Linked DNA regions of Homo sapiens: region 2 is linked to region 1. The links come from fine-mapping of genetic effects on gene expression. A gene starts in region 1. The other region holds a variant in brackets. All regions are shown on one strand. Distances are from middle to middle. Region 1 holds the start of OLA1 (Obg like ATPase 1). Region 2 overlaps OLA1 (Obg like ATPase 1).

Region 1 (15,852 bases):
TCAAACTCCTGGCCTCATGTGATGCTCCTAACTCAGACTTCTGAGTTGCTGGGATTACAAGTGTGAGCCAACGCCCCCAGCCTGAAACATACATTTTGTGTTTAGAGTTGGGTCCCCTCCCCAAGATATCTCATTACATATACGCAAATATTGCAAAATTTAAAGACATTTAAAATCTGAAACACTTCCGGTCCCAAGCATTTTGGATAAAGGATACCCAATGTGCATTACAATACCAAATTCATTCAGAAAGAATGTCCTTCACGAATCTATTTCTGAATGAATAGTGGGTTAGGCATTATCACTATTTATCAATACCTAATTTTCCTCTACTTCTGGGTACAAGGAGGATTCCCAGTCCCTTGAGGTTAGATGTGGCCATGTGATTTAACTTGGCCAATGACATGTTACATTTGGGTAACAGCACCTTGATATGGAAGGGTTTTGAGATGGAAGCATCCTGAAAAGTAATGGGCCAACTCATGGACAGCTGGCAGATCTCCAGTGGACTTAATGGAAGAAAAGAATTTTATTCTGTTAAGCCCCTCAAATTCTGGAGTTGTTTGCTATTATATTATTATATAGCCTATTCTGAGTAGTACAAGTATTCTTTGAAATGAACGACACAGGTTCAAAACTGCAATGAAAATGATACATTAAGCTGAGCTGATGTTGAGGCCATGAATTGGGTGACCTAGGCCCATGCACAAGATTCCCCAATTTCCAGCTCAACCGATGTGACCACTGTGACACCTTTTGGTAAGCAACCTTCCACTTCCATGATGGGAATTTTTAGTATCTTGTAAAGGTTAGTAGACATATTGTTTTCACATGCTGTCATTTTATAACACCATTAAGTGTTGTTAGAAGATGATCAGTTTTCTTCAATGTTTTCTCAGTGAACTAGGTGTGCCAACGTTTATCATATTACAATTTGTATATATCATATCAGATGACCACCAATGCCACTGATATTTTCCAGAATTACCATACTCTGCTCAATGTGTTATCTTGAAAAAATGGTTCAGGAAGTGAATATTGCTGGTGTCCTTTTCTTATACAACCCTGCTTTTGCTCAGATATCTATCCATACTTCACACAGCCATGTGCCTCAGAGGAAGTTGACTTCTCCTCTAGTCCCAAGGATGGACTAAATGGTCTAAGGGTAAGTTCATTTTCCCTGCCAGTGTCTGGTTCAGGCACAGGCATGAGACCCAATTTTGCCCAGTGAAATAGAAGAAGTTATCTGGAGAGATCTGAAACATGTTTCCCTTTTTACTAAAAGAGAGCTACTGAAAGAGATGGTCCCACTCTACCCCAATATTGTCATTCTGGTTATGCTGCCTAGAACTGCTATCATAGCTTGCTGTTAGCTTAAGAATAAAACCAGGGAAGCCCAAGGAAGACAGGGACATTATATGGAAAGAACTAGTCTCCTTGCAAATAGTGTTGAGCTATTGAATCTATCACCCTTGTTCTCCCGCTCTGTACTTTCTGTTATATATGATACATTTTCATTGAATCAAAACTTCTGTTATTTATATCTCAAAGTATTAGCTAGCTAATACAATGATAATATATTTACTTTCCTGGATTAGGATATGTCTTTTTATGTTGCCTCTGAGAAAATAATATATATAGTTTTCTTTTAAGAATTCCTAAATTGAGGCTGGTCATGGTGGCTCATGCCTGTAATTCCAGCACTTTGGGAGGCTGAGGAGGGAGGATTGCTTGAGCCCTAGTACTTTGAATGTAGACTGAGCAACATACTGAGACCCTGTCTCTACCAAAGAAAAATAAATTAGCTGGGTGTGGTGTTATGCACCTGTAGTCCCAGCTACTTGGGAGGCTGAGGTGGAAGGATCTCTTAAGCCCAGGAGTTCAAGGCTGCAGTGTGCTATGAACAGCCCTTGGTGAATAGCCACTGCACTTCTGTGAATAGCCACTCCATTCCAGCCTGGGCAACATAGGGAGACTTTGTATCTTAACAACAAGAACAAAATGATTCCTAAATTTTAAACCATGAATTACAATAGATATTACAAAACTCCAGCAGTTTCTAGGATACATGGCTCTTTTAATCAGCATTCTTTCAAATACTATGAGAAATTCTAGAATAGAAGCAATTGATTACTTGTGTTTTACTTCACTGGTAACTTATGGTCCAAATTCAATAACTCAAGAAACAGACTCTTCAAGCATAAGAATGACAATGGAAAATCTGGGCCGGGCACGGTGGCTCATGCCTGTAATCCCAGCACTTTGGGAGGCTTAGGAGGGTGGCTCAATTGACTCCAGGAGTTCGAGACTAGCCTGAGCAACATGGAGAAAACTCGCCTCTACAAAAAATACAAAAAAAAAAGGCCTGTCATGATGGGGCACACCTGTAGTCCCAGCTACTTGGGAGGCTGAGATAGGAGGATCGCTTGAGTCCAGGAGGTCGAGACCGCAGTGAGCTGTGATCTGGCCACTGCACTCCAGCCTGGGCAACAGAGCAAGACCCTGTCTCAAAAAAAAAAAAAGAAAGAAAGAAAATGGAAAATCTGTTTCTTTGCTGATGCCTAAGAGGGTCTGAGTATTGCTGGTGATGGAAAAGGAAAGGGGATGATGATTAGGCACTGCCTCGTACATAATATCAGAAGTTGTGAAGGTAAGTGAAAACCAAGATGGTTTATTTTAAACTTTCAAACTGTAGTTATTTAGGTATCCTTCTATATATTTTATCAGCTTCTTATATAATTATTTGTGTAGTCACTTATTTGTCTACTCCACTAGATTGCTAGCTCCTTCAGGGCAAGGATTATATATATATATATATATATATATATTACAAAACAAACAAACAAAACATATATATAATATATTAATATAAATATATATATTTATGAATATATAAATAAATATAAATATATAATATATTATATATTATATATATTATAAAATATATTATATATTATATATTATAATATATTATAAAATATATTATATATTATATATAATATATTATAAAATATATTATATATAAATATATATTTATGAATATATAAATAAATATAAATATATAATATATATAATATATTATATATATTATAAAATATATTATATATTATATATAATATATTATATATATTATAAAATATATTATATATTATATATAATATATTTTATATATTATAAAATATATTATATATAATATATAATATATTATATATATTATAAAATATATTATATATAATATATAATATATTATATATATTTTGTTTGTTTGTTTGTTTTGTTTTTTGCTTTTTTGAGATGGAGTCTCGCTCTGTCACCGAGGCTGGAGTGCAATAGTGTAATCTCGGCTCACTGCAAGCTCTGCCTCCTGGGTTCACACCATTCTCCTGCCTCAGCCTCCCAAGTAGCTGGGACTACAGGTGCCCGCCACCACGCCTGGCTAATTTTTTGTATTTGTAGTAGATATGGGGTTTCATCGTGTTAGCCAGGGTGGTCTCGATCTCCTGACCTCGTGATCCGCCCACCTCGGCCTCCCAAAGTGCTGGGATTACAGGAGTGAGCCACCGCACCCGGCCAATCATATTTATCTTATTCTTCACTACTCCAAGGCCTACAGCAATGCCTGGGATGGAGTAGGTGTTCAAGAACATAATTTTATATAAAAGACAATAACAAAAATGTTCAGAGTAGGATATTCTAAGCATATGGGACTATCCTAGTCCTTCATCTGAATTCTGGATATGATAGTAAGCTTAGTGTAGAGAGAGAAAAACATCTGATACAGGTAATAAAAGAAAAGTGCAATTTAAGTTAACTACCTATATAGGGTAGTTATTTTTGTGCACTTGTCCCCTTCCCCTCCTAAAGTTATTATCAGGACTCAATTTCCCTTTTAGTGTAGTTATTACTATTATTCTGTTTTCTGTTATGCCCCTCACAGATGTGGACGGGGCTGGCCAACAGGTGTAGTCAGGCCGTGCTAGCACATGGTGAATACGTTGCTGCTATTTTCCTCTTTTCCTTCTCATCCTCTCTCTTTGTGTACTCTTTCTGTCTCCTGTTGCTTAGCTTTCTGCACAGGATCAATAAATCTCTGAATTTCCAGCAGAGCTACTCTGTATTTGGGGATAAATTACTGACCCCAAGCCATTCTCTAGATCCTTTGTGACCTTAGGTCAACTCACTTGATCCCTGGTCATTGGCTGAGCCTGGTAAGGAAAGAAAAATCCAGAGAGGGTAACGATAGCAAAGAGTGAAACCATGGGCTCTACTTTTTTTCATTCCATTGATCTTTCCTTAGTAGCAACCTTCTGTTGACCTGACCTGATGGTCTATTCTCATTCCCCCTCTGACTGAAATCTTTTGCTCAGTTTTCATTCTAGACCACATCTGATTCTTTCCTCTAGGTTTAACTTAATCATTGAGCCCAATGGGTACTAAATAGACTTCCCTTTGTGCAAAGGCTCAAAAACATGCTTTCCTCTATTCAAAGTCCCTTTTTTAGGCTTGGCATTAGTGTTAACTATTTTTTTGTGTGTTTGTTTGTTTTTGTTTTTTTTTGAGACAGAGTTTTGCTCTTGTTGCCCAGGCTGGAGTGCAAAGGTGCAATCTCGGCTCACCGCAACCTCCGCCTCCCGGGTTCAAGCGATTCTCCTGCCTCAGCCTTCCCGAGTAGGTGGGATTACAGGCATGCGCCACCATGCCCAGCTAATTTTGTATTTTTAGTAGAGACGGGGTTTCTCCATGTTGGTCAGGCTGGTCTTGAACTCCCAACCTCCGATGATCCGCCCACCTTAGCCTCTCAAAGTGCTGGGATTACACGCATGAGCCACCGTGGCGGGGGCCAGTGTTAACTACTAATATCCTGTTTGTTTCACTGAGTCTTCCTTTAGCGTTGTAGAATAGTAGATACCCACTAGGGTCTTTTCTGAGAACTATGTGTTTCGTTGGTAGGCAGGGAGAGGTCACTCATACAGCTTTTTGACTATGTGACCCTTACCCACGTAGCCATTGCTGATGGGACCCTTGTTAGAACTTTACCAGAACTGGGCCAATCACATCTTCTTTCTTGTGAATACAAATTTACCCCCAGTGACAGTGAGTTGGAAATGGAGTCCTATTATCAGGCAAGTGTTGGCAGCACCAGCTGGCCACTCCTGAATACTGCCTGAGATTTGTGTAACCTGTTTTGGGAAGGCGCTTTAAAGGTGGTTAAAAGTGCAGGTAAGAAAGATGTAGTTATAGAGAAACAAGTGATTAAGAACTTGATAGTGTAGATTTAAGGAAATGGGTAGATCTGAGAGATTCTGATATTGAAGAAGTATCTAGATTTGGCCAAAAGACAGTGATAAGTTGAAGATGATTCTAGTACTCCATGACCGGGGAACATTTTCAATCAGTATTGGAGTGGCTGGTTGCTGGGCAGAGAGGGCTCTCTGGGATTCTTGAGTTTTTTTTTTTTTTTTTTTTTTTGAGATGGAGTCTTGCTCTATTGCTCGGGCTGGGGTGCAGTGGTGTGATCTTGGCTCACTACAGCCCCCGCCTCCCACGTTCAAGCGATTCTCCTGCCTCAGCCTCCCGAGTAGCTGAGATTACAGGTACCCGCCATCACACTCAGCTCATTTTTGTATTTTAAGTTGAGACGGGGTTTCATCATATTGGCCAGGCTGGTCTTGAACTCCTGGCCTCAGGTGATCTGCCTGCCTTGGCCTCCCAGAGTGCTGGAATTACAGGTGTGAGCCACCAGACCTGGCCTCTTGAGCTTTTTTTTTTTTTTTTTTTTGAGACGGTGTCTCGCTCTGTTGCCCAGGCTGGAGTGCAGTGGCGCAATCTCGGCTCACTGCAAGCTGCGCCTCCCGGGTTCATGCCATTCTCCTGCCTCAGCTTCTCCGAGTAGCAGGAACTACAGCTGCCCGCAACCACGCCCGGCTAATTTTTTGTATTTTTAGTAGAGACGGGGTTTCCCCAGGGTCTTGATCTCCTGACCTCGTGATCCGCCCGCCTCGGCCTCCCAAAGTGCTGGGATTACAAGCGTGAGCCACCGCACCCGGCAAGCTTTTTAAGTAATGGTTCCTCTCTATTTCCACAAGCAGCAGTGTGAATCCACTATAGAGCTTCATTACTAAAATATCAGTACATGATTCAGGAATCACTTTGAAGGGCTGTTCCTGAGAGTTATTTTCACAGTGGCCACAAAATTTGGGCTAGTTAGCCCTCTTTTTCATAGTTAAAGTGCACCAAGATAGCTGTTTTATACATATATAGTTTTGGTGACAAGGGTACTAGACCAAGAATATAAATAGGGCACATTAATATATAATATTAAGAAAAAGTAATACAAAACCAAATCAAGTTGCCTGTGTCCTTGAGAATTTCCAAAATTGTAGAGAAAGCTCTTTAACTCACCTCACTAGAGCACTGTTACAGGGCTAAGGAAAAGCCTTAATGCAATTTTATTATGAATACTGGCTCAGAGCTTATAGGGAGTCTCTATTTGAATGAATTCTCGTCTGGGTGCGGTGGCTCACGCCTGTAATCACAGCACTTTGGGAGGCCGAGGTGGGTGGATCACAAGGTCGGGAATTCGAGACCAGCCTGACCAACATGGTGAAACCCCGTCTCTACTAAAAATACAAAAATTAGCTGGGTGTGGTGGTGTGCACCTGTAATTCCAGCTACTTAGGAGGCTAAGGCAGGAGAATTGCTTGAACTCGGGAGGCGGAGGTTGCCGTGAGCCCAGATCACGCCACTGCACTCCAGCCTGGGCGACAGAGTGAGACTCCATCTCAAAAAATAAAAATGAATTCTCGCTGAAAGGAAACAGATTTTTCAGATAGTTTTAGTTTTACTTTTTATTTGTATTTATTTTGTTAGAGATAAGGTCTTGCTCTACACCCAGGCTAGAGTGCTGCGGCAGTGATCATAGCTCACTGCAACCTTGAGCTCTCAGGCTCAAGCCATCCTCTCACCTCAGCCTCCTGAGTAGCTGGGACTACAGGTATGTGCCACTACACCCAGCTAATTTTTGTTTTTTGGTAGAGATGGGGTCTCACCACGTTGTCCAGGCTGTTCTCCAACTCCTAGGCTCAACTGATCCCCCTATCTTGGCCTCCCAAAGTGCTGGGATTACGGCCAGATTTTCAGTTAGATTGTGGTTTGAAATATGCTGCTGCCATTTACTAGTTGTGTGACTTCATCCAAATTAATCAACCTTTCTGATATTGTTTCCTCACTTGTAAAATGGGGATGGCGACCTATTTACATCCTTTAATATTAATAGCAACTAATCCCTTTAAAAGGAGCTTCTAGTGTCACAATTTTTGGACAGGTATCATATTCATTACAACAAATACCTGAATGACATCTGAAGGCCAGGACCTAAATGAAAGAATTCCTTCTCCAGTGGCGCTCATGGTATTGATATGATGTGGGTGAGATGGGATGAAATCCTAATATTAACAACAGCGACTACTCACAAGCCTTTTCTGTATGTGCTGAGTACTGTTGTTATGAGCTCAACACGCATTGTCTCATTTTATTCTCACACGAATAACCTCATAAGGTGGTTTTAATAGCCTCATTTTATCCAGAACGAAATTGAAGTCCAGAGAAGTTAATTTGTCTAGGGTCATACAGTCAATGAGTGGCGAAATCCAGATTGGAAATTCCCAAATTTCAAAGGCCCCTGCTCTCAACTACCAAGAGGAAAAGGGGGGAAATTGGCTCAATTAAACGCATTCTGTGATCCAGTACCTGTGTGCGACGCTTTAACTATAAGGCGAGGAAGAAATCCCTAGACCAAAGTTTCCCTTAGCCCCTTTTCCTTCAAGAACTTTTAGTTAACAGCTTCTCTCCGCACAGACTGAGCGAATAAAGTTATAGAAAAGGGAGATGGGCTAGCGGCCACGCGGTCCTCGGGGCTGGTGTGGCTGTTTGCCTGACTTCAGACGCCCCGGATCTCCCGGAGGGAAGTCAGGGCCCAAGGCACTCCGCAGTCCAGCTGGGAAAGCTTGGGGCTGTAGGCCCGCGAGTGAACGTGAGCAGGTAACCCAGGCCGCGCAGCCAGACGGAAGCGGAGACCTAGAACCGAGAAGCCCACGTGCCGAAGCGGAAGACTAGAGCTCCCGGGAACGGCCTAGCCAGCGCCTTCCCCTCTCCAGCTCCCTGCCGCCGCGCGGCTCCTCCCACCCTGGGCTCCTCCCGCCCTACTCCCGCCTCCCCGGCCGGTTAGGCCAATGGGCGGGACGCGCGGGCAAGGCGGGGAGGGGCGGGGCCCATGGTCTGCGCGCAGGTGCCGCTCGGCGCCCGGCCCGCCCGTTCCGCCGCTGTCGCCGCCGTCGTGCGTGCCGCTCGGCGGAGGGGACGGGCCTGCGTTCTCTCCTCCTTCCTCCCCGCCTCCAGCTGCCGGCAGGACCTTTCTCTCGCTGCCGCTGGGACCCCGTGTCATCGCCCAGGCCGAGCACGGTGAGGCCCTCAGGGAGCCCGGGGGCGCGATCTCCGCCAGGTCTTCGGCGCCTGGGCTCATTGCCCTGAGGCTGGCGCGGGGCCCGGGCCCAGTGGCCAAGATGGGGCCAGGGCAGCGGGTGGCTTGGGGATGTGTGGATGAATGAGGCGCTGTCGGACTAGGCCGCGCGTCGGGAGATCGGCCTACGCCTCACGCGGGAAAGCCCTGGGGAAAGCCTTCTCCCGACGCCAGGACGCCCGGTGGCCCAGTCCGGAGAGGAGGATGGGGGGTGGGGCCCACTTTGGGTGGGCTGCCGGCCACCTCTCTGTAGGCCAGAGGACCCGACAGGCGCTGTTCCTGTATCTGTTCTTTGGAGGCCTGGGAGTTGGCCAGGAACAGGTGTCAGGACGCTGAGAAGGGAAATTCCTGGCCCTCGGGGTCAGGGATCAGAGGCTGGAATACTACTGCAAGGGCAGGGCCCCAGCGTGGTCCTAGGAGGTACAACTCTCAGCCAGAAGACTGGGACAGTTTTAGTTCCCAGCTTCTGAGACGTGAGCTTAGCGGTCTTTGTGATTTCACTTTGCAGTCCAAGGGTGGGAGTAATTCTGCACGCATGATTTGGAGACAGAACTAGTAAGGGACAGAGAAAGTTTCGACTTGTAAATAAAAAGGTTCCGTCGATTAATTTACCATTAGAAATAGTAACCATAATGTAGATTTTGGAGGTTGCTTATGAGGACTGATGAGCCGTACCTTCAGTGCCAAAGGTGGGAGGGACTTGGTGGAAGGACCCCAGTACCTGGTGGGTGTTCATCTATGTGAAAAATGGGGGTTGTGGGCGAATGGGAAAGATAAGATTCCAGATTATAGAGGAATGGTTTGGTGTGAAGGGTGACTTGGCTGCTGGTGGTTCCACAATGGAATTTTCTTTGACTGTCTTCTGTGTACTTGCTTCCAAATGCTTTCTTTCATATAACCATATATCAGGTTAAGATATAAAGTGTTTTGTGAGCAGTCTGGATGGAAGATTGGTAGCTAAACTCTAAGTTTATCTTTGATTCCTGGTGCCACAAATATTTTATTTATTTATTTATTTATTTAAGACAGAGCCTAGCTTTGTCGCTCAGGCAGAGCCCAGTGGCGTGATCTTGGCGCACCGCAACCTTCGCCTCCCGAGTTCAAGCAGTTCTCGAGCCTCAGCCTCCCGAGTAGCTGGAATTACAGGCTGCGCGCCTGATGGCCGGCTAATTTTTTTGTATTTGTTTTTCTTTTTAGTAGAGACGGGGTTTCTCCGTGTTGGCCAGGCTGGTCTCGACTCCTGGTCTCAAGCAGTCTGCCCACCTCGGCCTCCCCCTCCCAAAGTGCTGGGATTACAGGCCTGAGCCACCGTGCCCGGCCCAACAAATATTGATTTTAGATCAGTCTTTCTGGGACTTCTCAGCAATGACTCTTTTGACAACGGATATGTTTACAGAACTTTTTAAACATTTTTGCTGAAAAAAAAGTGGATTTAGCTCTGTGTTAGTTTTGGATCGCTATATACAGTATGTTTTGTTCTTAATCTTAATTCAATAATATATTGTATGTGATGAAATGTGTTTTGGGTCCATGTGGATAGTAAAAAGTTTTGTTCATATGTTTGCTTTGGTATTTCAGATGCCCCCTAAAAAGGGAGGTGATGGAATTAAACCACCCCCAATCATTGGAAGATTTGGAACCTCACTGAAAATTGGTATTGTTGGATTGCCAAATGTTGGGTAGGTGAACGTTGGGGCTTTTGTGATTTTCATTTTGTAAATATTTTGGGTCCTATTGTAGAAATGGGAACCGTGAGGTAATTAAACTTTAAGTTGAAGAAAAGAGGCCAGGAAGCTGGACTATTAATATTGCAAAATTAGGCTTTAGTTTAGATGTATTTTATTGATTTCAGTGCTGGTTGGCTATGTGTGGTACCTACATAGGCTGTCTACCAGAGGCCATGCAGTAGGCTACTTTAGGAAATTGATTTGAAAGCTCCACCATAATAAGCTTGATGGAGAAGGAGGTGACAGTTTTGAATTTCGTAGTGGAAATCGTAAAAGGTTTGCTGTTATAAAGAGTCTAAATCTGAAAGTTCTGAGAGCAGAAATTTGAGTTTTGTAATATTTTCTTTTCTTTTTCTTTTTTTTTTTTGAGATGGAGTCTCACTCTGTCGCCCAGGCTGGAATGCAGTGGCATGATCTTGACTCACTGCAACCTCTGCCTCCCGGGTTCAAGTGATTCTCCTGTCTCAGCTTCCTGAGTAGCTGGGATTACAGGCGCGCACCACCACGCCCAGCTAATTTTTGTATTTTTAGTAGAGACGGGGTTTCACCATGTTGGCCAGGCTGGTCTTGAACCCCTGACCTCATATGATCCACCTGCCTCAGCCTCTTATAGTGCTGGGATTACAGGCATGAGCCACTGAGCCCAGCTGTAATGTTTTCAAAGTTACAGTGAATTGAATATATGCAAATAAGAGAGTGATAGGAAATATATGTGGGGTTTATCATAACTCTATACACACGCAACTTAAGTGTTCAAAGTCTTCTTTTTTTTTGAGATGGAGTCTTGCTCTTTTGCCCAGGCTGGAGTGCAGTGACGTGATCTCAGCTCACTGCAGCCTCTGCCTCCCAGGTTCCAGCAATTATCCTGCCTCTGCCTCCCGGGTAGCTGGGATTACAGGCATGTGCCACCACGCCCGGCTAATTTTTCTATTTTTAGTAGAGACGGGGTTTTACCATGTTGGCCAGGCTGGTGTTGAACTCCTGACCTCAGGTGATCTGCCTGCCTTGGCTTCCCAAAGTGCTGGGATTACAGGTGTGAGCCACTGCACTGGGTCCAAGTGTTCCTTTTTCATTATTTATCCTTTCACTAACCTTAAAATATAAAACATCTCAAAAGTGATTAGGGTGTACTAATAGGTAGCAGATTCAGTGTGGATTTGTGAAAGTGATCAAGGGTGGCCTTTTAGATTGGTGGCAAGTAGGACAATCATGTTCTTAGGTATTCCGAGGAGCTCCTGTCATAGAGATTCCTCAATGAACAGAGCATGGCGTGACCAAGTGAGGCATGTCTTAAATTCATGTAATGTAAAACATGAGCAAGTGTGGCTGTCCTGATTTCAGTCTTTCCTGGAGCTTGAAGAGGTTTTCATTTTGAAGGGGTTTCCTGCTGTGATATAGTCTGCTTGCAGAGTAAGACTAAGTAGAGAGTTGAAATGTAAGCAAAACAAATAATTAATCAAAATACTGTAGGGTGCTATCAATAAACGTGAAAGCAAGCTATGATCATTATTTATGTTGTGAGCTTTATTGCACTAGTAAGGAAGTTAAGTTTTGAGATATTGACATACTTCTCATTCTAGAATTGTTGCAGTTACTACAACTTGATTTTAAATGGGACTATATTAAAATGGGCCATATTAAGTGTTTTCTGTACATATAGGCAACCCTCTGTATCTGTGGTTTCACATCCTTGGATTCAACCAATCTCAAATCAAAAATATTTTTTTAAAAAATTGGCTGGGCATGGTGATTCATGCCTGTAATCTCAGCACTTTGGGAGGCCGAGGTGGGTGGATCACTTGAGGTCAGGAGCTTGAAACCAGCCTGGCCAACATGGCGAAACCCCATCTCTACTTTAAAAAAACACAACAAAAATTAGCCGGACATGGTGGCAGGAGCCTGTAATTCCAGATACTCGGGAGGCTGGGGCAGGAGAAACAGCTTGAGCCCGGGGGGTGGAGGTTGCAGTGAGCCAAGGTCCCGCCACTGCACCCCAGCCTGGGTGACAGAGCGAGACTCCGTCTCAAAAAAAAAAAATTTTTTTTTAATTAAATAAAAAATGAGAATATAACAGTAAAAAAAATAGTAAACAACTATTTACCTATCATTTACATTGCATTAGGTATTATACTACACCATTGTATATAAGGGACTCAATCTGCTGGAATCTTAGAACCAATCCCCTGCAGCTATGGAGGGACGACCATAGCTTTTTAGTCATAGAGCATAATGAAATTAATGTACGTGGAAGTAACCTAAAAATATTTTATTATTCAGAATAAGTGTGTGTGCTGTTTACACTTTTAAATAAAATGCTTTCCCCTCCCAGTGTCATTGAGGTATACTTCACAAATAGTAAAATTCACTCATTTTAAAGGTACAGTTTAATGAGTTTCGGCAATTGTATTTGGTTGTAAACACTACTTTTTGTAGAATGATCTTACTTCACACAACTGTATCAGGTAGGATTCTTTGTAAGCAACACAATTCTGGCTGTTTTCAGCAGGAAAAAGAGGTTTATTGGAATAAGTGAATTACAATCTGAACAGCCAGGCCTCAAGAGGGATAAGAGCCAAGTGGTGCTGGCAGAAATGGGTCCATGTGGAGCTCAGCCATGTGAATCCCTGGATTTCTGGGTGTTTCTCATTTCCTGTCTCTCCTGTAATTCCAATTCCTGAGTAAGGAAATCCGACCGGACTTGTGTGCTTCTGTATAGATCTACAAGATATAGATTGTGGGAGGGAGACGGTTCTCTAAAGGATGGCCTGCTGATCAAAAGTAAGGACATTCAGTACAAAACCATCTAGAGAATCTCTTGGTTTTTAGCTGGGTGAATAGGAAGGCTTACTTTTTAGTCTGCATAAGGCTGATGACCCAGAAACTTAGAGGTAATATTTATAGCTAATCAGATATTGAACATTTACTATATGCCAATCGCTATTTTGAGTACTTTATATATATTATCTAATTTAATAAGTGGTTTGACATTCCCCTCCATTGCAATTTAAATTCTGTGAAGGTAGGAAGGTACCGATTGTCTCGTTCTTGCTTATTGGTATATTTCTAGTGCCTAGACTGGTGTTAGAAACATAGTAGATATTTAGTAATTATTTGTTAACGGGACACGATGGTGTTAGGAACATAGTAGATATTTAGTAATTATTTGTTAATGGGATACATATTTCCCCTTTGACGGCTGGATGTAGATTTAGTGATAAGGAGACATGTTTTTGTTTTTTGAACAAGATTTTATTCTCTTGCCCAGGCTGGAGTGCGGTGGCATGATCATGGCTCACTGCAGCCTAAATCTCCCGGGCTCAAGCAGTCCCTACTCCTCAGCCTCCTGAATAGCTGGAACTGCAGGCACACAAAACACCGTGCCTGGTTAATTTTTGTATTGTTTGTAGATGGAGTTTCACCATGCTGCCCTGAGGCTGGTTTCACAGCCTGACCAGCGTGGTGAAACCCCATCTCTACTAAAAATACAAAAATTAGCCAGGTGTGGTGGCACGCCCCTGTAATCCCAGCTACTCAGGAGGCTGAGGCAGGAGAATTGCTTCAACCTGGGAGGCGGAGGTATCAGTGAGCTGAGATCGCGCCACTGCACTCTAGCCTGGGTGACAGAGCGAGACTCCATCTGAAAAAAAAAACAACAAAAACACAAAAAAGCCTGTCTCCTTGCCCCGTGTGGTGGCTCACGCCTGCTGGAATTACAGGTGTGAGCCACCGTGCTGGGCAATTAAATGACCTCTTTTAATGAAGTAGAAAGAATATGGAGATTTGGTTTCTAGTTCTGTACTGCTTTTTCTTACCTGAGTGACCCTTTATAAATGAGCTCCTGTTGGAGCAGTGTATTATTGTGGTTGTGAGGCTTAGAGAATATTGGGGGCGAAAGTACGTTTTGATACAGTGTTCCAAACTTCTTTATTTCTGTGAGGGATAGCTCTTCTTGTTGCTATCCACTGCATCAGATGGGATTAGGTTCAATTAAGAGCATCAGAAAACCCCAGATAACCAGTTTTTTTTCTTCATGTAAAAATGTACATTTTGCAGTCATAGCTTGGTATAGTGGACCTGCTTTATGAAGTCCTCAGGAACCCATGCTCCTTTCACTTCACAGCTTGGCAATCCCTAGGATGTGGCCTCATCCTCATGGTCTAGAGCTAGGGTTCCCGAACCTCATGCTGGGGACTGGTACCGATCTGTGGCGTGTGAAGAACCAGGCTGCATGGCAGGAGGCGAGCAGCAGGCGAGTGAGCATTCCCACCTTAGCTCCACCTCCGGTCAGGTCAGCAGCAGCATTCGATTCTCAGAGGAGCGCAGGCCCTGTTGTGAACTGCGCATGCAAGAGATCTAGGTTGCACGCTCCTTATGAGAATCGAACTAATGCCTGATGATCTAAAATGGGGCAGTTTCATCCTGAAACCATCCCCCACACCCTTGGTCCGTGGAAAAATTGGCTTCCATCAGCCAATTCACGGTCCAGTCCCTGGTGCCAAAAAGGTTGGCGGCTGCTGGTCTAAGGTGTTGTGAATTCCAGGCAGCTGGTTATCCGAAGGGTCAGGGGGCCAAACTTGACTAGCAGCCTTTTTCCTGTAAACTGCCATACCATACTTCTGCCAACATCCCTTTGTCCAGAATTTAGTCACAAGAATTTAGTTGCAAGGAAGGCAAGGAAATGTAGTCTTTATTTTGACAGCCACATGTTTGGTTAAAAATTCTGTTACTCTTGGCTGGGTGCAGAGGCTCACGCCTGTAATCCCAGCACTTTGGGAGGCTGAGGCAAGCGGATCACTTGAGGTCAGGAGTTTGAGAACAGGCTGGCCAACATGGTGAAACCCCATGTCTACTAAAAATACAAAAATTACCTGGGTGTGGTGGCGCACGCCTCTAATCCCAGCTACTCGGGAGGCCGAGGCAGGAGAATGGCTTGAACCTGGGAGGCAGAGGTTGCAGTGAACCAAGATTGTGCCACTGCACTCCAACCTGGGCCACAGAGTGCGACTCTGTCTTAAAAAGAAAAAACAAAAAACGATTACTCTGAAAGAAGGGGAAAATGGATATTATGGGCAACTAGTATACTGTGTTCAAACACTCACAAACTGCCCCAGGAGAGTAATTGTCTTGTTTAGCTGATCCTTCTGGGAATGCATTTTGGTGTCCCTGCAAATTGCCTTCTCCCAAATTTCTGCAGACCAATCACAGCGTCTGTGAAAGCCATTTACCATTGCTGAGGGAAAAGGTTGTAGAAAATGCTAAAAAAAAGAAAAAATCACAAGAGAATTATCACCATTGTATAGTTATCTGTTGATGTGTAGCAAACCATTCCAAAAGTTCATGGTTTAAAATAGTAACAATTTTTGTTCGTCGGGAATGTAGTGAGTTAGAAAGGTCTTCTGCCAGTCTCATTGGGATCCCTCATGTGACTGCATTCAGCTGGTGGCTAGTTGAGACTGAAAGATCCAAGATGGCCATTTTAACAGATCTGGGGCCTTAGCTGGATTGACTGGAAGTCTGGGGCACTTCTCTTATACTTGGCCTCATTCTCTTTCTAAGTGGTCTCTAGACCAAGCTTCCTTATATCTTGGCGTCTGGCTCTCGAGAGAA
Region 2 (15,852 bases), 130 kb after region 1:
CCGAGTAGCTGGGACTACAGGCACCTGCCACCACACCTGGCTAATTTTTTGTATTTTTAGTAGAGACGGGGTTTCACTGTGTTAGCCAGGATGGTATCGATCTCCTGACCTCGTGATCCGCCTGCCTCGGCCTCCCAAAGTGCTGGGATTACAGGCGTGAGCCACTGCGCCCAGCTCCATAAATATTATTATTTATTGAGTATTTACTGTGTGCCTAGAACTTGCCAGTTGTTTTACATGTATTTTCTTGTTTTATTTTCACAATCACCATATTTTATTGGAGTTATACAGTTTCACAGAAACAAGCTGAGAGAGGTTAGGTAACTTCCCCAAAATTACTCAGCCAGAAAGTGTTAGAACCAGGACTTGAACTCAGATCTTGAGGAATATGGCCAAAATCCATATTCTTAACCATATTCCATTGTTCTAAACCTGCTGTTCTCACTTAGCAGTATATTTTGGACATTTTCCCATGCAAATGTACATATAGATATATCTCATCTTAATGACTACAAAGTGTTCTGTTGTATCAGTGCCCCATAACTTAATTAGCAAATCTCCAATTAATGGCTTTTTAGATTTTCTTTGTTTATTTTATTTTATTTTTTTTTTTTTTGAGACAAGTTTTGCTCTTGTCCCCCAGGCTGGAATGCAGTGGTGCAATCTCGGCTCACTGCAACCTCCACTTCCCGGGTTCAAGTGATTCTACTGCCTCAGCCTCCTGAGTAGATGGGATTACAGGTGCCTGTCACCACATCTAGCTAATTTATTTATTTATTTATTTTAGTAGAGATGGGGTTTCGCTATGTTGGCCAAGCTGTTCTCAAACTCCTGACCTCAGGTGATCCACCTGCCTTGGCTTCCCAAAGTGCTAGGATTATAGGCATGAGCCACTGTGCCCAGCCTATATTTTATTTAAAAAAAAAATGTTTATTTCTTTCATTTTTTTTTTGGAGACAGGGTCTCGCTCTGTCACCCAGGCTGGAGTGCATGGCGTGATCGTAGTTTGCTGCAGCCTCATACTGGACTCAAGCAATACCCCCCTCAACCTCAGCCTCTTGAGTAGCTGGAACTACAGACACACACCACCACGCCCAGTTAATTTTTTATTTTTTTATTTTTTGTAGAGATGGGGTCTCACTATGTTGCCCAAGACGGTCTCAAACTCCTAGCCTCAAGCCAGCCTCCTGCCTCAGCCTCCCAAAATGCTGGGATTACAAGCATGAGCCACCATGCCTGGCTTTTTAGATTGTTTCTAATCTATATCTGTCTTCTTGTGCCAGTGTCATACTATTCTAATTACTATAGTTTTATGGTTTATTTTAATATCTAGTAGGACAAGTCCTATATTTTTCTCCCTAAACATTTTTTTACCCTCGAGCAAGTAGTTCTTTTAGAATAATGATATATTTAATATATAATATTCTCCAACATCCCTATTATGATTTTAACTGGAATTTGTTAGATAAACATTATAAAAGGTGGAATTTTTATCAGTGCAGTATTGGACAGGATAGAGAAATTTTCAGTGCAGGGTCTGGCTAAAGCATGTTTTGGGTCAGTGTCTCAACCTCTGGTCTGGGAGTCCCTGGACCTAGAACATTTACTTAATTAACTGTTGTTGGGACATTTGAGTATTGCCATCAAAGTCACTAATAGCCATGGTTCTTGGATTTTTGGATTATGGATCCCTTTGAAAAGCATTTGAAAGTTATGTGCCATCTTCCCTCAAAGGCACATAAACGGAACTTTATGTACAGTTTCAGGGTGGTAAGGAACCCCTGCAATCTATTTATGGATCATAGGTTAATAATTCCTGCTATGGGAACTGAAGATACCAAGATAGAGAAGTCTAGTATTTTAGGAATGTATAATAAATGACTGGATTATTATATAATTGTCTGCAAAGAAAAATTACTATTTTTGTGATACATGGATTAATGATCAGCTATTGTACCCAAATAATTAAAATAAGAATATTGAATTTCTCTGATAGCCTGAATGAGAATGAGGATTTTGGGTAACAACCTTGGGGGATGTCTAGGCTAAACAAGGAACAGTTATAAAAGCAGTAAGGAAGACAAATATGCCAGGGTATGGAAGAGAACATGAACCTTCAAGTCACTTAGACCTGAATTTGAATCTCATCTCTGCCACTTACTAGCTATGGGAATTTAGGCAAGTCACACATGAAGCTGTGAGTCTAAATACATTACAGTTGCTGTTAACAATAACAATAATAAAATATATCAAGAAAATAGAGCATTTCTAATTTTAAATGTGAAGCTCTGAGTAAGAAGAGTCAAAGCAGAAGAGTGAGGTATTCAAGGTGAGTTTGGGTTAAGTTTCTTTGCAGTTAAAAGATAGTCATTTAGCAAAAGCTAGTTCTTGCAGAATGTTAAGATTAGAAGCCTGACTTGAGATTTCATGAAAAAAGCCAGTATTTTTAGAAACTCAGAAATTTGAAGAAAAGGACTAGTGAACAATTATACAGATGAAAAAGTATACATATGCTTTAAAGGAGCACCCAAGAGAACATATTGCCATTTTGTAGATCACTGGGATTTAATCTTTCAGCAATCATAACAACAATGGCAACTACTCACATTTATTGAGAATTCATTCTGTGCCAAGAACTGTGCTAAACACTATATGCACTATCTCTTTTAATCTTCACAACACTCCCTAGGAGGTAGATCTCATCCTCTGCATTTTATCAATGAAGTAGGTCACAGACCTGGTAAGTGGCTAGGATTTATTCCCATGCTTAAGCATTATACTGTTACCTCTTGAATTAGTCCACTCATGTAACTGCAGTCTAACCGAAAAGTTCAAATGACCAGGAATTTTTATGTATCTCTATAATGTACAGAATTTATTTTGAAAATGAGGGATTTGTTAAAGTTACCAAAACAGCCCAATTTAGTACCCCTACATCTGCATTTCTATATAATGATAGTAAAGAAATATGGAACCTAAGGCAACTTCTGAATGCATTGGGTATTCAATTTTTTTTTCCAGTTAACCAAGCTCAGTTAACTGGAACCTTTTATTGTTCTAATCATCGTTATTTATATATGTATTTATATATATGAACATAAGGAAATAAATTCAATCAACCAATAAGTATTATATCCAAACAAGCCCAAATGTTTTCTTTCATCTGTTTAGAAGTTTTTCCGATAAAGAATATAACATCTTTTAATTTTTTGCTAAAATTAGAATTTTTACTTTATGTAAGAAAAAGAGCACATTGAAACTATACCATATACTGATCATTTATATAAGATAGTCTTATCTGAAAAGCAATCTATTTTTGATTTGTCTTAAATAAAACTGACATCTTTTAGTAAATCTAAGTTGTCTTTTCTTGGCTGTTAAATCTTTTGTGGGAATAATTAAGAGAGCACTGAGTACAAAATGTTTTTATTTCAACTGTCCAAAAACTAGGTTATAATATATAAATTTCTCTAAAAATATTTGAATGTGGCTTTAAGGAATACTGTGCTGTTCAAGAACTTTGATTATAAGTGAATTCTATTTAATTAAAACTTGACTGCAAAAAATTTTTTGAGTGCTTCTAATTTGTAATGTAATTTGTAATGTGAGAAAAAGCAAATGCCAAAATGCTTTTGTGATAAGATTTCTATATCTGAAATAATGGTCCAGTTAATTTAAAATGAAAGAGAAATACTGAAATTCCTTCACTGGTGATCAGCACTTATTGAGGCTCTGAGGTTTTGTAAAAATGTTTGTAGTTACAGAAGTATTTTATACTTTTTATATGATTAAAATTTAATTTCTTCCCCTATTTTTTGTTTGGCTTTCTTTTGTCTGTTTTCTTTCTTTAATTGAAAAAACTAATGGAACCAAATATAAGATGGTACGACTGTTTTTTCTTTCTTTTGTATAATCTTGTTGCGTGTCTCTACATAAGCTGTTCTGGCCACTCATCATAGTAACCAGCTGGGCCATTTCACCTGCTGGAGCCATTAAAGAGGACTCTCTCCCCCTAGATTAATCCCCTCCGACATTAGTTTTTTGCACTGACAACTAGAGCAGGCATTCAGAATTTGCAGGTGGCCAGTGTGACGCACATAATTGCCTACAATTTTAGGCAATGAATAAAAATGGTCTACATTACTTGTCAAAGGTTGTATATGCAGTGCCAAGTGAGATCTATGGGAAGCCTTTTAGGGTTTAAAGAACAGTTAATAGCAAGGCTGCACAGGGCTTTTTTAATCATAATGCATTTGTAATATAGCACTTTGATCTTCTCCTTGTAGGAAATGGTGTTACATTAGCCACTTTTAAACATTTATGAGTGAAATTCAGTTATAGAAGAGTAAAAGTGATTATTCTTAAGCCGAACATGTTAGATTTCATTAAAAGTTTTCAGCTTGCCCCTTCCTTGTTAAAATCTGTGGGAAGTCCTTTGCCTGGAGGGTTTCAAATCAGGATCTAAGGATATAAGGCTTTTTCCTTATTTTTCCTGTTGGTAACAGCAAAATTTGGAAGGAAGGTATACTAAATATTGAGATAATTTATACAAATGGATATTTAAAGAAGAATAACTGATTATGGTAAAGTAAAATACATTGATAAAAATCCAGGAAATTGATTACTAATAATTGTGTTACAATAAATTTTGAGAAATGCATATTTAAAACATATCCATAAATTATCTTTAGTAACAACAACAACAGACACCCAGATGACTCTCAAATGCACTTCTTCTGGAAGAGCTAAATTTGACCTTTCAGACCCCAGAGCCTTTTATTAACACCTGCCTGTAAGGAGAACCTTGCCACACGCAGCTTTTAGATTCAGAACCACAAAACTGATGAGGAAAGGCTTGAAGGGTTCAGTTTGTGTCACTTGCTGTTTGCCGTTTCCATTTCACAGATGATTAATCTTTCTGTGAAGAAAGGCCAGAGAAACAAAGCACATTGGGCTCTTCCTGCAGTTACTCCTTCTGAATGCACACTAGCTTGCTAACTAAAAGGCCTTTAGATTTCCAGCAGAGAGAGATGTTCTGAAAGTGAATGCAGCTGGTTGGAGGTCACCAGTGCAGGGCTCTTGCCATTGTGTAATGGAGGCTTTGGCAGGTTCGGGGGGTGGGGGAGTTGGGGGTATTGGGGGTGCGGCTGCGGGAGAAGTGGGCAGGGAGAAGGTGTTGGCAAAAAATTAATCTAAAATAAAAAGGGATCTGGTCAGTTGATTTAATATTTTGGAGGCTGGATCATCGATAATAGGCTCAATTTTGTCTTGTTTGTTTTTCTTCTTAGGGGAAAAATATAATTTAGTCTTTCTTCAGTATATCCCCTCACTCCATTTTCTAATAGCATGTTTGTCTTCTATATGGCATCACTAGGTAATATTGAAATGGTAGTAACTCTTGTATTAGTCTTTGATGTAATTGAATTGTCTTGACATTTTTCAGGCTGTTACTAATTTTTGCTAATATTGTCCATTTTATACATTAAAAATTTAATGCCACAATGTTTTATTAGTAATTGGTTTTTAAATGAGATATTGAAAATAATTATTTGTGTGACCTAGCCCCCTTTCATTAAAACAATCTATTTTTATTTTGAAAATTTGAAAACTTTTTAATATTTAGTATCTAAATGTTTAGTTATTCATATATATTTACCTTTTTCTCAATCATGTGTAGGATATAATGTGCAAAGTAAAATCCTGGGTTATAGATCAAAAGAAACCTGTTCGCTTCTATCATGATTGGAATGACAAAGAGGTAAGTTGTAAATATCATGCCATCTATTACTGCCTTTGCTTTCATTTGCTAGGGAACAAATTAGAGTTGTTGTTATTTTACACTTACCATTATATCTAAATTTTTATTTCTGTCAGTGATTGCTTATTCCTGGGCTTGTTATTTTTTTCTTTTCCCCCACTCATGATATTTCATAACCACTAATCTTTTGGAAAGAAGAATTATAAAAATGAAAATGCCTACTTGTTTTAAGGAATGTTTACTTTCAAATTCTTCAGTGATTTACTCCATATTTACTAAACTTTTAAAAGGGATTCTTTCTCCATCTCCCACTTTAGATTGAAGTGTTGAATAAACACTTATTTTTGACTTCAAAACCAATGGTCTACTTGGTTAATCTTTCTGAAAAAGACTACATTAGAAAGAAAAACAAATGGTAAGTTTTTCCTCACCAGATATACCCAGATGCATCATCTCTGTACACACACAAACACACACCCACATATATGTACTTAACGGCAATGTTTAATTTTAATATTTTTCTCCTTATTAAAAAGTTTAAAATGGATGAGAAAGCTGTGCTTGGTATTTACCTTCACAGATGAGTCTTCTAATTGACTTAGAGAACTTAAGAAAAACTGAATTAAATAAGCAATATTGAATTATATACATTTACTTATCAAATGTAAGTTTATTAGACATTATCGTTTATTTCCATTGCAAAATGAGAATAAATGTAGTCACAACAATAAAACTTCTTACACTAGGAATTTCTAGCTGTGTTGATATTATAAGTGACTTTAAAATACCCACCTGGGGTTGTAGCTGGGCATGAATTTTAAAATCCAGATTGAATGCTTTAAAAAAAAAAAAAAAAAGACTGTGTGTGGGGAAAGACCAGTACCTGTTTCAAATGCTTTAAAAGTACATCGAGGTAAAAACTATGCATTCATGTATTGATTGTCATTTTTGGCATGTAACCAAAATGTACAAGATTTGTTACTATCACTGATAACTTCAGAAAATTATATGTTCATGTACCTGTGGGCATGTCCACATTTGGCATACCACTCACTTTGACTTGCCTCACTGGACTCTTAAGTATTTTATACTATTGAGTCATACAAACAAATCAAAACTATCCAAAGCAAAATATCTGAATTCTCCTAAACTATATTGTCTGTTTCTCCCTGTACTTCATTAAGTACTTAGATGCACATGGTTTCAATTTTCCATTAAAAATTCTCATTTCCATATGATATCAAAGAGTGAGAAGGCTTTAAACTGAAAAATAAACATTCATAGACTGGAAGCCAAAACAATAATTAATGTCAGATGGTTAACTCCAATAAATCATTAGAATAAATTCTGTGAAATTACTGCAACTAAAAATGCCCTGTTGATATTACTATAAGACATTTTGTGTTCCTGATAGGAAGATGAATTTAGCCTCTTTATTGGTAATGTTCTAAAAAGCATAAATTTAACATAAAGATTTCATTCAGCTGGTCAGTATCCTCCATCAGGTAATTAACTTTAAAATAATCAGTTCTGTCGCCTTTCAAATTCTTATAAATTTGATGATTAATGTGTTAAAAATTGTTACCTTTAGGAATGAATTTTAAAATTTATTACTTGACCTCAGTTAATAAATCTTCTCATTGTGGTATGAATGGTAAGGTTTCCTGAGGCTCTGTGAAACAATACAGACATCAAAGTTTACATGAAAAGGGATGAGTCAGTTTCCTTGCCCAAAGGGACTTCTCACACCTGTATTTGGATGATTACAGGTAGAACTCCCTGGCTCTAATTGTATAGTAAATACCATTTCCCAGACCCTAATGGTAGACAGACTGCTTAGGAGACGCCAGTCTGTGATTTAGCTGTCGCCAGACACCCCATGTTTTTTGTGAGACCAGTTGTGATGATGACATGGTTATAGCCAATTGAAAGTAAACCCTTGTCTAAATAGCAAATTTTAATTTATAATAATGTAGAGGTATGAATGATCCTATTTTATAAAACCAAATCTTAATAGGTTTTATGTATAACTAATGATCTGGCTTGGGGTTGGTGTGTGTATGTCTTGGGGGGAGGGTTGGGAGGGATCCAGATCTTGTGGAAGTTAGTGTAATTGTAGCTGAAAGATCAAAGACTGGGTAACTGAATGATGTTCCAGAAGAGAATTTACCACATAGCCATTTTCTGTACAGTTTCTGCCGCCTGCTGTTCCTATTTTCCCTCAAGCTAGCCATTGACTACCCCCTGTGCATCCCTGCTCGTAAAAAATGATTGAGGAAGTATTTGTCATATATTTATGAGTGGGAAATATTGTGTGATAGGGAATGGCATCTACTGGAGCCAGAAAGATTGCCATTTTCCTTTCATTCAGCCACTCTGCTACAGCTTTAAATCCTCTCTGTTTATGCAACATAGCCTTTGTATTAAAGTGCAGAATAAATTTTTATTATGAGGGATATGAACACTAGGTTTTCATCATTTATAACACTGAAAGCAGATGTAAATAGTTAAAATCCATTTTAACTACTAAATCCTTTTAATTGTGTTAGCATCTTGTTTTTTGGTAATGTTTACATCTAAGCTCCATTTGCATTATTAGTTGCTTCTTTAGCAAAAGAAAAAGTTTTTGTTTTTTAAGATTAACATGTAATGTTACTATAGCAAATAAGACTGATGCAGGAAACAGTAATAAATACTTTCATGGGTCTTTTAGATCTGGAAAACTATTTTAAACCATCAAGAAAGAGGAGAGGAGAGGTTTGTGACTTTGGCCACAAGAGGAGACTAAAACTGTTGTTATTTTAGCAGGTCACCATTTCAGAAGTATTGAACACTTTAGTTACTGAAGTTCACCCTAAATGTAAATGGTAATGTGTTATTTTTCAACCCTAGAAAAGAAGGAAGCATTTTGAAAGATAAGTCTATTGTGTTATTGAGTAGCTATATTGACATTTTGTGAGATGCAAAAACTGGAATGGCTGCAAGCATTAGTCATTGAATTAGTCATTTCATTGATTTATGACTAAAGACCTAGCCCCTGAAGAGAAGCTGACATGGCAGCCGGGTTGGTTGCAGTTGTGTTATGATCAAATGACAGTAATCAAGATGTTGTAAGTGAATCCACAAACCATTTTTTATTATTACAAATTGCTGTTTCTTGAATGAGTAAAACTATATAGAAGTTTTTGTTGTTTTTGGTGAGCACAAGCATTTTTGAACACTTGAGGTTTTCATTTTCTAAACACGATCAGCTGTTACTTATAACTAAGATTATACTATAGACGGTATTAATTTTCATTTGAGATTGCTTACTGAGTCATGGTGTCAAGCAGGTACAGGACATTAGAACTGTCAAACTACTGCTTAATTAGGGGTTTAAATTTCAATCTTTGCACCCTTGCTGCTCTGTTAGTAGAATATGCCATCCAATTATGAAATCAGTAGAATAAACTAATTTTACATATTTTTTACACCTACCAGCCATCAATTATGTTTCATTT[T/C]TGTGATCCTACCTTTCTTGAAACTGTTAATAAAGGATAATTATATTTTATTATTTATTATACTACATATTTATGTTCAACTGGAAAATATAACTAAACTTTTAGATACGCAGACTGTGTGTGTGTGTGTGTGTGTGTTTGTGTGTGTGTGTGTTATACACACATTTTCATATGCCCTGGTGGGCTTGTAGTCATTTAACATTACCTTTTGGGTAATATTATATGAGTCAATTAATCTGAGTGATGAAATTGATTCAAGATAGGTAGACAAATACTTGGAAAGTCTTTTAAGTTGTTTAATAATGAAGGGCAATGTGTCAAGTTCACTAAATGCATTTTAAATAGAAAAATGTTTTATTATTCTTATTATACCATGATTCAGTTCCTTCCCCTTTCCCATCTTTATGTGTTCATTAGTTTTCCACATAATTTGTACATAACAACTAAAAATAGTTTGGGGATACTACACATTATGTGCTTGGTTTGGGGGGAATCATGGAATAAATATATTTTCTTGATTTCTTGAGCTGCCTATAAAAATTACAGCTACTATATCTCAGTAAGTGTATATGTAGGTGGAAGTGTGTATATTTTTGACACACAATTTTCTATTTCTGTATGTGTGCATATATATACAAACACATATATGCATATAAATATAAAAAACTATTTCTATAGAACTATTGTAGGAGGTCATCAGTTTCTGACAAGATCATTTAAGCTAGAAATATAACACAGACATTCTGCTTTGGAAAGATTACTTTGTATTATGATAAAGCTTATTGTTAACAGTATTATTTATACTATGAATTAGGATTTCAAATAATTTTTTGGTGAATGAATTTTGTGGAATTGATTATTTCTTTCTCTGATCAGAATCTTTAGAATTAAAAAGAATATGATAAAGAAAAATGATCTTTTTATTACAGGAGATGGAAGGCTGAAAGAAGTGGGGATGGGGAAAAACCTTTGCCCATTCAGGAATCTTTTTTTTTTTTCTTTTTTGGTCAAATGTACTTTTGCATTTGAATATATTTTTACATGTAATAATATTTGTGAATTCCTATTTGGTTTTCATTAAATGGGTTTTGAATATTCTTTCGACAATTTCATATTCTTATCGAGAGATAACAATACAGTAGTGCACTTCTGGTTTCTTATGAAAGAGATAATTATATACGAAAGCACTTTTTTTATATGAACATAATGCTACTGACCCTATGCATATTAGGAATTTCCCTTGGCCTGTTTGTATTTTTTGCAATACTATTTATAGCCAATGATTTCTATTTGCCAGATGGTTCACTGAATTCAAGAAAGTGATACATTTGGGAGTGCCCGTTGTAATCTTCATTAGCACCATCTGCTGACTTACTGATTTGTGAGTGATGTAATTTATCAAATATGTCAGGACTTTCATCTTTTTCAAACTAGCTGAAGAATTTCACTCCACATAAACAGGAAAAGTTATATAAAATTTTTTCTAGCTTCCACAGATTAAAAGGTTTATAAGTACTTTTTAAAAAATTAAGTGTTCCTTAGGATTCTGTCATGTGAAATTAAAATATATATTCTCTATACATGTACACACATCTATGTTCTAGGAAATGAAATATAAAGTTTGGTTTATAGCTATCCAGTGTTCTTCAAATTACAAATGATTCATCTACACAAAGAATTTCTTTGCTTCCCTACCCTACTCACTTTGTTGAATAATTCAAAAACAATCCCCTTAAAAATCTGCACTAGAGATTAAGGATCTCTGAGTCATATTTTGTTACCAAAACACTGAGTTGGGATGAGCTACACTTTTACAACCGGAGTTGATATGGTTTGGATTTTTGTCTCTGCCCGAATCTCATGTTGAATTATAATTCCCAGTGTTGGAGGAGGGGCCTGGTATGAGACGATTGGACCGCAGGGGTGGATTTCCTTCTTGCTGTTCTCGTGATAATGAGTGAGTTCTCATGAGATCTGGTTGTTTAAAAGTGTGTAGCACCTACACCTTTGCTCTCTTCCTCCTTCTCCGGCTGTGCCTGCTTCCTGTTTACCTTTGCCATGATTGGAAGTTTCCTGAGGCCTCCCCAGCCGTGCCTCACAGCCTGCAGAACTGTGAGCCAGTTAGACCTCTTTTCTTTATAAATTACCCAGTCTCAGGTATTTCTTTATAGCAATGTGAGAATGGACTAATACAGGAGTTTAGTAGTTGGTGAAGAGGGTAGTGGAGAATTTTGAAGCTCAGAAATCTCAGGACTGTTGGGAGTGGGAAATATAGGGCAGGACCTCGGGAAGGATTTAGAATGGAGGTTCAAGATAGTTTGTAGGATTTGAATAACAGGTTTTCCTGGGAGAAGGGTGGAGAAAAGGAAAGGTGAACAATGTCAGTGTTTTACAGCCTAATGTGTCCTGCTTGTGTGGGATAGGAGGAAGAGCATTATTTGTCTCTACCGTTCTTTCCTGTGCAGCATGTTCCCCAGACACAGCATCTACCTTTGGATTTAATGTTGTAGTTTAACTATTTGATGAGTTAAATAGACTTGAAGCCTAGCCCAAAATGTTAGGGACCATTAATAATATTGTTTCTATAAAGAAAACGAATCCTAAAAAACTGGAGAATATGGTCTATTTGTAACCTAGGGAGTAGAAACTATCAAGGAGTTGGGTGTGTTAAGAAGAATACTACTTTAGAATTTGAAATACAAGTGCTATGGTCTTTATTTGCTACTATAAGTAGCTCTTTGAACTTGGCCATTTAAATTACTTAGCCTTTCATGTAGAAGATAATTCATTGAGATTGTTCATATAAAATGTGTTCTGTATAAATAATGTTTCCCAAATTTACTTATAGCTCAAAAAGTATTCAATAATGGAAAAAGAACTTGTTTTGGCCTTGTGAATGCATCTTTTGGATACATTACCTTGGTTTTTATTTCTGTTATTGGATTAAGGAACAAAATTTATTACATGTATAAATATAACAGTGAGACTCCCATGATATCACTGCCATGTTCTCTACAACCCCATCCCCTCTTTCAGGTTGGGCCCTATAACTTCACCATTTGCAGCTTAGAGGATTTTATTGTCACCCTTGGCTTCCATTAGAGTAAATCATTCTTTGTTTACATTGTTACAATATGTACAGTCTTTATGTAAAATCATGTTACAGTAGCATGATTTTTTAAAGAAAATTGTTTATTCTTTTAAAAACCTTTTAAAACAGTTTCATTGTGATTTCATATATCTCAGTCTCTCTGAGTATGAATGTATGTATGTATGTGTTGGGGGTGAGGCAGTGCAAGTTAGTAAAGAATTAAAGATCATCTCTAAGGTTCCCTTCCAGGGCTAGAATTTTATGATTTTAATGAAGTGTAATGAATTCATAAAGAAAAGATACCCATGCAAATATCTAGGTTTGCCATAGTAACTTTTCCTAATTGCGTACAGAGCATTCCTGAGGTTGCAGCCCAATTTAAGAGCAACTTTTCTGGGCTGGGTTACAGATAAGACCTGATCTTTTTTCCTACTCTCATTCCCTCTTCCATATCTCAGGGCCTTGAAAATAAGCCTTTTCTGCATCTCACCATGTTTCTTCCCATCTTTTATCTTAGTGGGCAGCTGTTGCTTTGGCTAGAATAAGAGCAAAGTGAATTGGCATATCTATATTTGAGATCAGTAACATTACTTAAACTATTATATTCCTTTATTCTAAATTGACCTAGAAAGCATGTCCCATCAAAAACATTAGAATGTGAGACTCACCCTCAAAAGCCTATTTAATTCACAATGTAGTAGAAATAGAACAATTTGAGAAATATTTTTGTATCTGTGACCATTTTTACGACCAGTTTTAAAATTCTGCTTTTTAAAAATGTGTTTTAAAATAACCGACTTATGAACTTTGCATATACTCCTGTTTATATAAGGCTGGGACTGCACATTGCTGTGCAATCTGTATTTTTAATGCTTTACATCAAGAAAAGCAAAACTTGGTAAAAAAAACTGTCATTATAAATGCAAATTTCAAATTTATGTTCCTTTTGAAGACTGTGAGCTCATTGAGGAGGTGGGTACTGTTTTCTTTTTCCTTTTTAAGCAAATAATTATTAAGAATTATTAAGCCCTTCTGTGTGTCATGTATTATCTTAGGTGGTGAACAGAAAAAGCCCTTTCTCCTGGAAGACTTACAGTCTCATGGAGTAATAGACATCCAACAAACAGACATTTAATATAATGCAGGGAATGATTAGGACCGTGAATAAAAACAAAGCAGAGTAAGAGGAAACTGTTTTAGTTAGGGCGGCTGGGGAAGACCTTATGAAATAAGGATACATGCCATGAGAGAATCCATGGAAAGCTCAGTTCAGGGAGAGGAAACTGCAAGTACAAAGGCTCTGAGGTAGCTAGATGGAATAAAACAGAATACGAGTTATAGGAATTGAAGTTGGAGAAGGAAACAGGAGTCAGTTGATGTAGAGCATAATGGGCCATCAAAAAGGAATAAAATGTGAAGACAACCACTTGAAAAAACGTATATGTTTTTATTTAAGTACATACCATTGAAACATTTTAAACATGTTCTAAATGTGTTCTAAAATTTTATTTGGGTTTTAAGAATAACCATAATGTATTTTCTAGTTTGCTTTCGTTGATTTCTTATAGTCCAGAAATATTTTTGATTGCTAAGTGTTTTAAACAGCCTTTAAAGTAATAATTGCAATTTATTTCAAATTTCATCTTTCCTTTTCCATGCTTGTCTAGTGACTTGTTGATTCATGCTACCAATTATGAAGCACTTTTTAAAAGCCCCTCGATGTACAACTTCAAAGAAATAGGTTGAACTTTATTAAGAAATAACAGCAGCCAACATTTGTCTAGAGCCTTACGGTGTTTCAGCTTTTTTATTTCATTTGATCCTCAAATTCCGAGATGACCCTCATTACACTATTACATTGGCCTTGAATTGAATGTTTACTAAAATGAAGCATTTTTTTCCTTTTCTTTTTTTTTCAGAGACAGGGTCTCACTCTCTTGACCAGGCTGGAGTGCAGTGGTGCAATCACAGCTCATTGCAGTCTGGACCTCCCTGACGGGCGCAGGCTACCACACCTGGCTAGTTTTTGTATTTTTTGTAAGAGTCAGGGTTTCCCATGTTGCCCAGGCTGGTCTAGAACTCCTTGGCTCAAGCGATCCACGTGCCTTGGCCTCTCAAAGTGCTGAGATTACAGGTGTGAACCACTATACCTGGCCAAAATGAAGCATTTGCATCATTGGAATAAGAGTTCTGCATATTAGTTTAGGAATGGGTTACTCCAACAGAGAGAGAAATAAGCTTTGTCTTTTCATTAGCAAAGATTTAGCAGTGCCTTTTCAGTACTTTAAATATTTGTCATTGAAATCAAGGGGTAGTCATCAGTATTCCTGGGTGATAATCAGCATTTTCCTTAGAGATTCTTTTAAAAGAATGTATTATGGGGCTGTGGGAAATGTTGTTGGATTTAATCCATTTTGAAATTTAAAAGGAAAAGATCAAATAGCATCTGTTCATTGGTAATCATTTTTAGCCTTTTTAAATGAAATTTTAAAAGATTTTTCCCCAGGAACGTATATGGATGTCCAACATGAAGGTCACTAGCAGTTTTCAAACATGACTTTTAAGTTTTGTCATTTTTCTTTTGTATGTCCTGCTTCCCCGCTTCCTCCATTTAATATAATTGATTTAGCTTTTTTTTTTTTTTTTTTTTTTTTTTTTTTTTGAGGCGGAGTCTTGCTCTGTCGCCCAGGCTGGAGTGCAGTGGCGCGATCTCTGCCCACTGCAAGCTCCTCCTCCCGGGTTCACGCCATTCTCCTGTCTCAGCCTTCCGAGTAGCTGGGACTACAGGCGCCCGCCACCAGGCTGGCTAATTTTTTTTTTTTTTTTTTTTTGTATTTTTAGTAGAGACAGGGTTTCACCGTGTTAGCCAGGATGGTCTTGATCTCCTGACCTCGTGATCCGCCCGTCTCAGCCTCCCAAAGTGCTGGGATTACAGGCATGAGCCACCGCGCCCGGCCGATTTAGCTTTTCTTATACCAAACTAAAAGACATACATAGCAAACCATTATTTATTGTTGAGTTCCTGCTATGTGATGGGCATTCTGAGCTTGGAAATTGCTGAGATGTATGATATTATACTTATCAAGCAGATATTATCATGCCCATTTTACAGATAGGGCAGGCGGTTGGAAAGATTATAAAACATGCCCAAGTTCTTGGAGCAGGTAAGTGGTAGAAATAGATCCATTTGACCTGAATGCGACTGTTCCACACAGGATGACTGACAGCTAAGCGACAGTACAAGATATGTTTGTGAATCTCCAGAAATCTTTGAAAATATCACGTCAGCAACTTTAGCATTTTGCTTTGTTTTATCTCAGAAAGTTTAATCTCCATCCAATTGTTTAGTTAATAAACTAAATTAGGATTTTAGTTAAAAAGAACAATTCTCAAGACAACATTTGTGGGTTTTTTTTTAGGATAATAAGCATTTGCTGCTGCTGTTTTTGCCTTGTCTCGTAATTTTATTAACTATTTAATAACATTGTTAAGAGGCAACAGCA

Evidence for each region. PIP is the estimated chance that this variant, and not a neighbour inherited with it, causes the effect.
Region 2: its variant is fine-mapped to the expression of OLA1 in whole blood (INTERVAL, PIP above 0.99).

What each region holds. Positions count from the first base shown.
Region 1 is chr2:174,241,060-174,256,911 of GRCh38, reverse strand. OLA1 (Obg like ATPase 1) reads left to right here and starts at 8,380. Exons shown (of 11, transcript NM_013341.5): 1 at 8,380-8,460; 2 at 10,097-10,197. The coding sequence starts at 10,097. RefSeq lists a silencer at 8,075-8,594.
Region 2 is chr2:174,113,501-174,129,352 of GRCh38, reverse strand. OLA1 (Obg like ATPase 1) reads left to right here. Exons shown (of 11, transcript NM_013341.5): 6 at 5,678-5,758; 7 at 6,076-6,173. Among named protein-coding and RNA genes, the nearest start is that of LINC01960, 96 kb to the right of the region's middle. RefSeq lists enhancers at 3,718-5,344, 6,617-8,537. The variant T/C (reference allele first, on the strand shown) is at 9,259.